Linked DNA regions of Homo sapiens: region 1 is linked to region 2. Evidence: fine-mapped expression QTL. A gene starts in region 2. The other region holds a variant in brackets. All regions are shown on one strand. Distances are from middle to middle.

What was found. PIP is the estimated chance that this variant, and not a neighbour inherited with it, causes the effect.
Region 1: its variant is the best candidate, but not a certain one, in a credible set for the expression of TMC7 in tibial nerve (GTEx, PIP 0.89).

Annotation. Positions count from the first base shown.
Region 1 is chr16:19,003,167-19,008,538 of GRCh38, reverse strand. All of the region lies in intron 1 of TMC7 (transmembrane channel like 7), which reads right to left. Among named protein-coding and RNA genes, the nearest start is that of TMC7, 22 kb to the right of the region's middle. The variant T/C (reference allele first, on the strand shown) is at 2,895.
Region 2 is chr16:18,981,737-18,987,108 of GRCh38, reverse strand. It overlaps TMC7 (transmembrane channel like 7), which reads right to left and starts at 3,175. Exons shown (of 16, transcript NM_024847.4): 1 at 2,979-3,175. The coding sequence starts at 3,045. RefSeq lists a silencer at 3,205-3,264.

The sequences.
Region 1 (5,372 bases), 21 kb before region 2:
CAGCCAGAACAAGCCTGAGCTAGCCTGCTGGAAGATGAGACTATGTGGGATGACTGCCCCAGCTGAGGCCGCTCCAGACCAGTCTTCAGCCAGCTTGACCGCCCTGCTAACCACAGACACTCAGAATGAATGACATTCCTAATTTGCTTGCATTTAGAGAGCTGGTGATTGGGAGCACTGCAGACAAAGCCAGGGCTGACTCCAAAACCCTTATCGTTTCTATATCAGGCCAGAGCTAGAAGCCAAGCTTTGCTGTGTCTTGGGCAGCAGGCTAAGGCAGGCGGGCTTTCTGCTGAAGGGGAGGGAAGCTACCTTCAAGATGGGTTTTATCCCTGATCAGATTTTAGTTGCAGGAAGATCACTCTGAGTGGAGACAGACAGGACTCAGGGAGAAGAGGGGGCAGGCAGCCATAATTACCTAAGCAATTACCCCTATGCAGCAAAGCTTCTATGCAGCAAAGCTTCATGATCAATGCCAAATGCTTGAGTTTGGATCCCCACTCTGTCACTTATTAGCTGTATGTCTTTGTGAAAGTTACTTAACCTTTCTAAGACTCAGTTTCCTCATCTCAAATACTCATTCAACAACTCTATCTACCATATGTCATATCTGGAACTAAGGGAACTGCAGTGAACAAGGCAAGTGCCCTACTCACGCGGCAGTTATATTCTGAGATGAGGGAGAGGGATATCAAATAATAAACAGGCAGTAAATATTATGCCAGGAAGTGATAAGTGTAATGAAAAAAAAAAAAAAGAACAGAGTGGTGTCAGGGGACAGAGGTGATATGAGAGGGGTAAACTGTTTTTGATAAGGTGGGGTCAGGTATTGTCTCTCTTTATTTTATTTATTTATTTTTTTTTTTTTTGAGACGGAGTCTCGCTCTGTCACCCAGGCTGGAGTGCAGTGGCACGTGATCTCGGTCTCTCTTTAAAGGTGACATTTAGCTAAGGCTGAATGAAGGGAAGGGGTGAGACCCCTGGATATTTGGGGAAAAGCACCCCAGGCAGAGGGAACCCATAAGTGGAAAGGCCCAGCGGCAGAAGAGTGTGTGACAGGTTGGAGGAAGAGTTAATGAGCAAGAACCTGGTGGGCGGTTTCGTTGGTGGCCTCCAATGAGCCACACTGGCCTGGCCCTCTGCGTGGTCCCCTCCTTGAATCTGCACAGGACCTGTGCTTGCTTTAACCAAAGGACTCAATGGAAGTAATGCTCTGCCATTTCCAGCCCAAAGTCATAAGAGGGCCTTGCAGTAGCCACTTCTGTGTTCTCGGGCCAGGGTTACCTGGTAGGAAGTCCAACTGCCTAGGACAATGAGGTGGAGAGGAAGAGCCCCTAAGCCTACAAAAAGAACCAACAACCTGGGTGACTGCAAGAACCAAGGCCCCAGGCTCGTGTCTTCAAACCCCTGGGACAGCCAGGCACGGTGGCTCACACCTGTAATCCCAGCATTTTGGGAGGCCGAGGCAGGCGGATCACCTGAGGTGGGGAGTTCAAGACCAGCCTGGCCAACATGGTGAAATCCCATCTCTACTAAAAATACAAAAAAAAAAAAACTAGCTGCACGTGGTGGCACGCGCCTATAATCCCAGCTACTCAGGAGGCTGAGGTAGAAGAATAGCTTGAACCTGGGAGGCAGAGGTTGCAGTGAGCCGAAATTGGACCACTACACTCCAGCCTAAGCGACAGAGCAAGACTTTGTCTCAAAAAAGCAAAACAAAAGAAAACAAAAAAAACCCCTGGGGCATCCTCACCAGGCATCGCCATGATGAGGCCATCTTGGGTGCTCCAGCGCCAGCAGACATCCCAGGCAGCAGTGCAAGCGGGCTCCCCCGTGCCCTGCATCGTCCCTGATGCACAGAATCAGCAGAAATAACAACATGGCTTAAGCCAGCACATTTGGAGCAGTGTGTTGAGCAACAATAGGTATTTAGGACAGGGAGAATGGAAACGTTAAAGTCAGAGGGGTGGCTGGGGTCGAACCAAGTCAGGCTTTGTAGACTGTGGCAGGACCTTGGGATGTTGTGCTTTGACTGCATTTTAAAAGGTCACCCTGGGCCGGGCACGGTGGCTCACGCCTGTAATTCCAGCACTTTGGGAGGCCAAGGCAAGGGGATCACCTGAGGTTGGGAGTCCAAGACCAGCCTGACCAACATGGAGAAACGCTGTCTCTACTAAAAATACAAAATTAGCTGGGCACGCTAGCGCGTGCCTGTAATCCCAGCTATTTAGGATCGCTTGAACCCAGGAGGCGGAGGTTGCAGTGAGCCGAGATCGTGCCATTGCACTCCAGCCTGGGCAACAAGAGCGAAACTCCGTCCAAAAAAAAAAAAAAAGGTCACCCTGGAGGCTGCAAGGGCAAGGCTGGGGTCAGGACTTGCTACACAGCCTGTTTATGAACATTAAAGGGGATCACATGGGTAGAAGGTCCCAGGCAGTGCTCGGCACACACAGAGCTCCATAAAGGCACCAACCGGATGAGGATGGGCAGGGGCAGGGCCAGGTGGGGACCGGTCAAGGCCTGGCTCTGACACTGTAATCTTTGCCTTTCTCGGATAGGCAAGTTCAGACACAATGGAGCAGCTGTCCCACTGTAGATGACACATGGACACGTGGCTGGGGCCCTGCCAATCACCATGTGCAAGTCTACGAGCCTCACCCACCCTTCTACCTCCCTGCCTGGCACACCCTGAGGATATGACACACTTCCATTAGTGGCAGTGGCTCCCTAGAGCCAATATGAGGGTAGGGTGGGTGTGGTCCCTGAAAAGGAAAAGGGTCTAAGCCCTGCATGGAGGCTACCCTCCTGCAAGCAGAAACAAAGAGCTATTATTAGCCACAAACAAAGGTCTTTGAATATAGAACAGCATGGACCTACTGAATATTCAACAGCTG[T/C]GGGGTCAGGGGCCCCAGGCTGGAGCCTGGGTTGGTTTAAAATACTGGCCTGTCACCCACCAGCCAAGCCACCCCAGGAGAGACCACAGCTGCCTCAGAGTCACATTTTTCTCATCTCGGGAATGGAGGATCTAATACCATGGGCCTCATCAGCATGATGGTGAGGAAGGAGTTGCAAACAACATGAACAACACTGGCTAAGATTTATTGAGTACTTGCCTACCTTGTACCAGGCCATTTAAAGTATTTAACATGCGGGCCAGGCGTGGTGGCTCACGCCTGTAATCCCAGCACTTTGGGAGGCCGAGGCGAGTGGATCACGAGGTCAGGAGATCAAGACCATCCTGCTAACATGGTGAAACCCCATCTCTACTAAAAATACAAAAAAATAGCCGGGCATGGTGGCGGGTGCCTGTAGTCCCAGCTAACTTGGGAGGCTGAAGCAGAAGAATGGCGTGAACCCAGGAGGCAGAGCTTGTGGTGAGCCAAGATTTTGCCATTGCACTCCAGCCTGGGCGACAGAGCGAGACTCCGTCTCAGAAAATAAATAAATAAATAAATAAATAAATAAATAAATAAATAAATAAAATAAAGTATTTAACATGCATCGTCACACTTAATACTCCGAACTACTCTTTAGAGAGAATTATCCCCATTGTGCTGGTGTGGTCTCAGCTACTTTGGGAGGCTAAAGCAGGAGGATTGCTTGAGCCCAGGAATTCAAGACCAGCTTGGTCAACATAACAAGACTCCAATTCCAAGAAAAAAAAAACCCAAAAGACAAACAAAAGAATTATCTCCATGTTACAGATTAATAACTGAGGCTCAGACAATTAGTAAGTGTTGCTTGCTCACACAGTAAGTGTTGGAACTAGGAACCCATCACAGGTTTATCAGACCCCAAAGCTGTAGTCTTCACCATGAAAAAATTCAGGGGGCCATGGATTTAAAAGTGTTTGTAAATGTTAAAATACCGTATAAGCTGGGCACGGTGGCTCACGCCTGTAATCCCAGCACTTTGGGAGGCTGAGGCAGGTGGATCACTTGAGGTCATGAGTTCAAGACCAGCCTGGCCAACATGGTGAAACCCCGTCTCTATTAAAACTAGAAAAATCAGCCAGGCATGGTGGCAAGTGCCTGTAATCCCAGCTACTCAGGAGGCTGAGGCAGGAGAATTGCTTGAAGCCAGGAGGCGGAGGTTGCAGTGAGCCGAGATCACGCCACTGCACTCCAACCTGGGCAACAGAGCAAGACTCCATCCCAAAAAATATATACAAATAAATAAATAAAAATAAAAATAAAATTCCATACAAATCAACTAGGTAATTATCCTGTTTTTCATACACCACCTACCCCCTCCTAGGAAGAACTGTTCTGATTTTTCCTCTTTAGACACTCCAGGGAAGTTCCTCAACTTCAAACAAAAAATGTCACGACCATGTCTTTGAACACAGGCATCATTATTTTTATAACTAGGATCCACCCCCTCGTTTGCATATAACACACACTTTTCCCAGCATGACGTCACCTCATTTCTCACGCCAACCTGCAGAGGTAAGCACAGAGGGCTTCACTTGCCCTGGTATTTTTTTTTTTTTTTTTAAATTTATTTTTTTATTGATAATTCTTGGGTGTTTCTCACAGAGGGGGATTTGGCAGGGTCATGGGACAATAGTGGAGGGAAGGTCAGCAGATAAACAAGTGAACAAAGGTCTCTGGTTTTCCTAGGCAGAGGACCCTGCGGCCTTCCGCAGTGTTTGTGTCCCTGATTACTTGAGATTAGGGATTGGTGATGACTCTTAACGAGCATGCTGCCTTCAAGCATCTGTTTAACAAAGCACATCTTGCACCGCCCTTAATCCATTTAACCCTGAGTGGACACAGCACATGTTTCAGAGAGCACAGGGTTGGGGGTAAGGTCACAGATCAACAGGATCCCAAGGCAGAGGAATTTTTCTTAGTGCAGAACAAAATGAAAAGTCTCCCATGTCTTCTACTTTCTACACAGACACAGCAACCATCCGATTTCTCAATCTTTTCCCCACCTTTCCCGCCTTTCTATTCCACAAAGCCGCCATTGTCATCCTGGCCCGTTCTCAATGAGCTGTTGGGCACACCTCCCAGACGGGGTGGTGGCCGGGCAGAGGGGCTCCTCACTTCCCAGTAGGGGCGGCCGGGCAGAGGCGCCCCTCACCTCCCGGACGGGGCGGCTGGCCGGGCAGGGGGGCTGACCCCCCCCACCTCCCTCCCGGACGGGGCGGCTGGCCGGGCAGAGGGGCTCCTCACTTCCCAGTAGGGGCGGCCGTTGCCCTGGTATTTTTTATTTTTTTTGAGATAGGGTCTTGCTCTATTGCCCAGGCTGGAGTGTAACCTGAATTCCTGGGCTCAAGCGATCCTCCCACCTCAGCCTCCCAAATAGCTGGGACTACAGATGCACACCACTACACCTGGATAATTTTTTTCTTTTTCAGTTTTTAG
Region 2 (5,372 bases):
CTATGGCCGGGTACGGTGGCTCACACCTGTAATCCCAGCACTTTGGGAGGCCCAGGCGGGCGGATCACGAGGTCAGGAGATCGAGACCATCCTGGCTAAGACGGTGAAACCCTGTCTCTACTAAAAATACAAAAAAATTAGCCAGGCGTGGTGGCGGATGCCTGTAGTCCCAGCTACTCGGGAGGCTGAGGCAGGAGAATGGCATGAACCCGGGAGACGGAGCTTGCAGTGAGCCGAGATCGCGCCACTGCACTTCAGCCTGGGCGACAGAGTAAGACTCCATCTCAAAGAAAAAAAAAAAGAACCAAGAGGAGTCCAGGCGAAGAGAACAGCAGATGCAAAGACCCTGAGGCAGAAACAATCTTGGTATGCTGGAGGAATAGGAAGGCAGCCAGTGCAGCTAGAGCAGGATAGGTTAAGGGAGGATCAAGGTGATGAGGGCCTGGAAAGAGGGGCTGGGGTCGAATCACCAGATCCTGTTGGTTGCGATGGAAGAGCCTGGAGTTTATTCTCAGAGCAGTGAGAAGCCACCGGAAAGTTGTTTTTCTGTTTTTGAGACAGAGTCTAGCTCTGTCACCCAGGCAGACTGCAGTGGTGCAACCTCGGCTCACTGTAACCTCTGCCTCCCAGGTTCAAGCGATTCTCCTGCCTCAGGCTCCCCAGTAGCTGGGATTACAGGCACATGCCGCCATACCCATCTTTTTTTTTTTTTTTTTTTCAGACAGAGTCTCTGTCACCCAGGCTGGAGTGCAGTGGCACAATCTCGGCTCACTGCAACCTCCACCTCCCGGGTTCAAGCGATTCTCCTGCCTCAGCCTCCCGAGTAGCTGGGACTACAGGTGCATGCCACCACACCTGGCTAATTTTTTGTGTTTTTAGTAGAGACAGGATTTCACCACGTTAGCCAGGATGGTCTCGATTTCCTGACCTCGTGATCTGCCCACCACGGCCTCCCAAAGTGCTGGGATTACAGGTGTGAGCCACTGTGCCTGGCCAGCCACCGGAAAGTTTTATGTAAGCAGGGGAGTGATCTGTTTTATCATTTAGAAGGATACATACCTCTTCTTTTTTTTTTAGAGACAGGGTCTAGTTCTGTCACCCAGGCTGGAGCCCAGTGTCATAATCATAGCTTACTGTAACCTCAAACTCCTGGGCTCAAGTGATCCTCCTGCCTCAGCATCCCAAAGTGCTGGATTACAGGCATGAGTCACCATGCCTGGTCACACTTCTCATTCTTTAAACCAGACCTCATTTGTCGCCTCCCCCATCCCCCGCCCCACCCCACGGACTGTCCTATAATGCCCATACAACAGGTCACTGTTTAGAAAGTGCTACAAAGTTACAAACACAGTCCCTTCTGAGCCTCCCACCAATGTTGGTGGGTACAAGATCAAAAAAAAAAAAAAAAAACTCATCTATCTAAGGGGCATAGAAGACTTTTTAGTTAGAGGGCCCAATTATAGTCCTCCTGAAAAGATGCCAAAAGTCCCCTCATACACTTAGCAAAGATGCAAGAAAGATGAATCTCACATTCTTTGTATGGGAAATGAGGAACTTGACATCTTCAATATAATGGATTCCACTAAAATAAGATGACTATTAATAGGAACCAACTAAAAAAATACTTGACTAGCTGTTATTGAAAGGCTGAAATTCAGCTGACATAAGCAGTATTAATATTGAGCTAGAAAATAATTCGCATTGAATCCACCCCAACTTTTGTTTTCTGATTTGGGTCTCTTCTAAATTTTTTTTTTCTTCTGGACATTGGGAACAATCCAATTTGAAGGCCTCAATGACCAAATCTACACTCATGTTTTATTCTATATCCTTGGTTTCTTTTTTTTTTTTTGAAACAGTCTTGGTCTGTCGCCCAGGCTGGAGTGCAGTGGCGCAATCTCGGCTCACTGCAACCTCCGCCTCCCGGGTTCAAGCTATTCTCTGCCTCAGCCTCCCAAGTAGCTGGGATTACAAGCACCCACCACCACTCCTGGCTAATTTTTGTATCTTCAGTAGAGATGGGGTTTCACCATCTTGGCCAGGCTGGTCTTGAACTCCTGACCTCGTGATCCACCCGCCTCAGCCTCCCAAAGTGCTGGGATTACAGGCGTGAGCCACCACGCCCGGCCCTACATCCTTGGTTTCAGTAAATCTCTATTCTAAAACTGAAAAAGAGAAAACATTGCAGATAAAACTTTACAGCAGGGTCTTGTGTTTTGTTCAGGACAAGATTCGTAAGCTCCAAATGCTACAAGGAACCCTGCCTGAGTGCTGGCAACTTTTTTATCCTGACTGGGCAGCCGTTGTACATATTTCTGTAGAAATTCATGGAGCTGTATACTTTACTGTAATTCTACCCGATACAAAAGATTATAATACTTGGCTGGCTACCATTTATTGTGACTGTCTAGCCACAATGCCAGGCACTGTGCTAGACACATCACACGATTCTCAGCTAATCCCCGCCCCATTCTATTCCCATTTTACTGCTGAAGGATCTGAGGCTCAGAGAAGGCAAGCCACTTACCAAAGGTCCCACAGCAATAAACAGACAAGGCAGAATTCGGTTTCAAGTTGGTCTAACTGTATGTGAAGGCTGAAATGTCCGGGAGGCAGGCACCTCATACCAGAATGTTAGGCGTGGAGGGGGTGCTCAAATCCTTTCATTTAACAGCAGATGAGGCTATTGAAAGACTGTCTCGGTCAACAGCTGGAAGACAAACCCACCACGGTCCAGACTGCAGTTCTCGTGTCCTTTTGGCCCGGCTGGGTTCCACTGGATTGGATGAGGACGCGTTTGTGGAGGGAGCAGGAATAAGGAAGATCTCCTTCCCACCTGCTGTTCCCCAGAGCCGGGAGCACCCGGCGTCGGGGGTGGGAGGGAACAGCGGCCAGGCCGAGCCTCCAGCACCCGGCTCCCTCCGTGCGCCCTCGGACCCCAGGGGCACCGTCCCCGCGCGCGCTCCCTGCCGCCCTACCTGGATGGACCGCCGGCTGCCGGCTGGGCCTGCCGGGCTGGAGCGCACTGCCGCTGGACTCGCTCATGGCCGCGCCCCGCGCTCCTCAGAGGCTGCCGAGGACCCTCTCCAGCCGCCGCCGCCGCCGCCGCCTCCCCGGCCTTCCCTCGCGGAGCCGGGATTCCAGGTTCCGGCGCTGACATCACAGAAGCCGGAGTGGGGCGCCCCCGCGAGGAGCCGAGCATCAGGGACCGCAGAGGGGCTGCAGAGCCCGGGAGATCCGGCAAGGCTCCATCCAGCGGTGGCGACAAGCAGCGACCTCCCTGATGTCTCACTGAGCTTAAAAAATAACAATAGATTGGGCGCACTGGGAGCCCAGTCTCCACCAGGACCCGGTACACCCATGTAACAAACATGCACATGGACCCCCTGCATCTAAAATCAAACCTGATCTAATAAAGAAATAAATAACAAAAATAACTGGTTGGGAGTGGTGGCTCACGTCTGTAATCCTCGCATTTTGGGAGTCCGAGGCTGGAGGACCGCACGAACTCACAAGTTTGAGACCAACCTGGCCAACACAGTGAGACCCCCATCTTTAAAATTAAAAAATAAAAAGTCCACACGCAAAAAACCCCAAGACTCCAAATCAGTGCATCTAGTAAGTTACCATTTGGGAACAAAAAGGAAACCAAAAAATATATTTGTACATGCTTGTAAATGCCTAAGCTATCTCCCTAGAGGGTGCAAAAAACTGGCTACCTGTGGTAGCTCTGGGTGGGGAGCTAGAGGGCCGAGTGAAGAGAAAACCACGTGCAGTGTTTGTCTTTTACGTTTTGCACTATATCCTCGTTTCATCTCTACCTCTGTTCGTGTGCAGGTTAAAAACATAAAATTGCCAGGCGCAGTGGCTCACACCTGTAATCTCACCACTTTGAGAGGCCGAGGCGGGAGGATCACCTGAGGTCAGGAGTTCGAGACTATCCTGGCCAACACGGTGAAACCCTGTCTCTACTAAAAATACAAAATTAGCCTGGCATGGTAGTGCATGCCTGTAGTCCCAGCTACCAGGGAGGCTGAGGCAGGAGAATCGCTGGAACCCAGGAGGCAGAGGTTGCAGTGAGCCGAGATCACGCCACTGCACTCCAGCCTGGGCGACAGAAGGAGACTCCATCTCAGAAAAAAAAAGAAAAAGAAAAGTAATTGCTAAATATAAATAAATGGGGAAAATGGAGAGAAATCTCCTGTGCAGATTTTGAAATCATTTACGTAGATACTTTAAGGATGGGGAGCTTAGCTCCCTACTCCTTAAGTGTGAGTTGCCCATAGCGACATCCTTCCAAAAGAGTGCAGTATGGAAGTGGTGGTGGAAGAGGGTGAGGGTGGGTTTTATATTAGATAATACCTGACAAACACTGTCTCAGACAGATGATCAAAGTTAACATCATCCGGGATCAGTGGCTCACACCTGTAATCCCAGCACTTTGGGAGGCCGAGGCAGGTGGATCACTTGAGGTCAGGAGTTCGAGACCAGCCTGGCCAACATGGCGAAACCCTGTCTCTACCAAAAATACAAAAAAATTAGCTGGGCATGGTGGCGGGCGCCTGTAATCCCAGCTACTAGGGAGGCTGAGGCAGGAGAATCTCTTGAACCCAGGAGGCGGAGGTTGCAGTGAGTCGAGATTGCACTACTGCACTCCAGCCTGGGCAACAGAGTAAGACTCCATCTCAAAAAAAAAAAGTAAATAAGTAAATAAGTTAACATCAACATTAAGCCATGAGGATGGTGTGCACCCTTCCTACGATGGGATGAGAAGGGCACTTTACCTCTGTGGTCATAAGAAAAATATCAGACAAATTCAACTGAGGGGCATTCTACAGAATACCTGATTAGTATTCCTCAAAACTGTCAAGGTCATTTAAAAAAAAAAAAAAAGGAGGCTGGAGACTGGGTGTGGTGGCTCATGCCTGTAATCCCAGCACTTTGGGAGGCCAAGGCAGGTGGATCGCAAGGTCAGGAGTTCGAGACCAGCCTGGCCAAGATGGTGAAACCCTGTCTCTACTAAAAAAAATACAAAAAATTAGCTGTGTATGGTGGTGGGCACCTGTAACCCCAGCTACTCAGGAGGCTGAGGCAGAGAATTGCTTGAACCCAGGAAGCGGAGCTTGCAGTGAGCCGAGATTGTGCCACTGCACTCCAGCCTGAGCAACAGAGTGAGACTCCGTCTCAAAAAAAAAAAAGGCTGGACGCAGTGGCTCATGCCTATAATCCCAGCACTTTAGAAGGCTGAGGTAGGAGGATGGCTTGAGCCCAGGAGTTGGAGACTAGCCTGAGCAACACAGTGAGACCCCATCTCTCCAAAAAATTTTAAAAATTATCTGAATGTGGTGGTGCACGCCTATAATCTGAGCTAC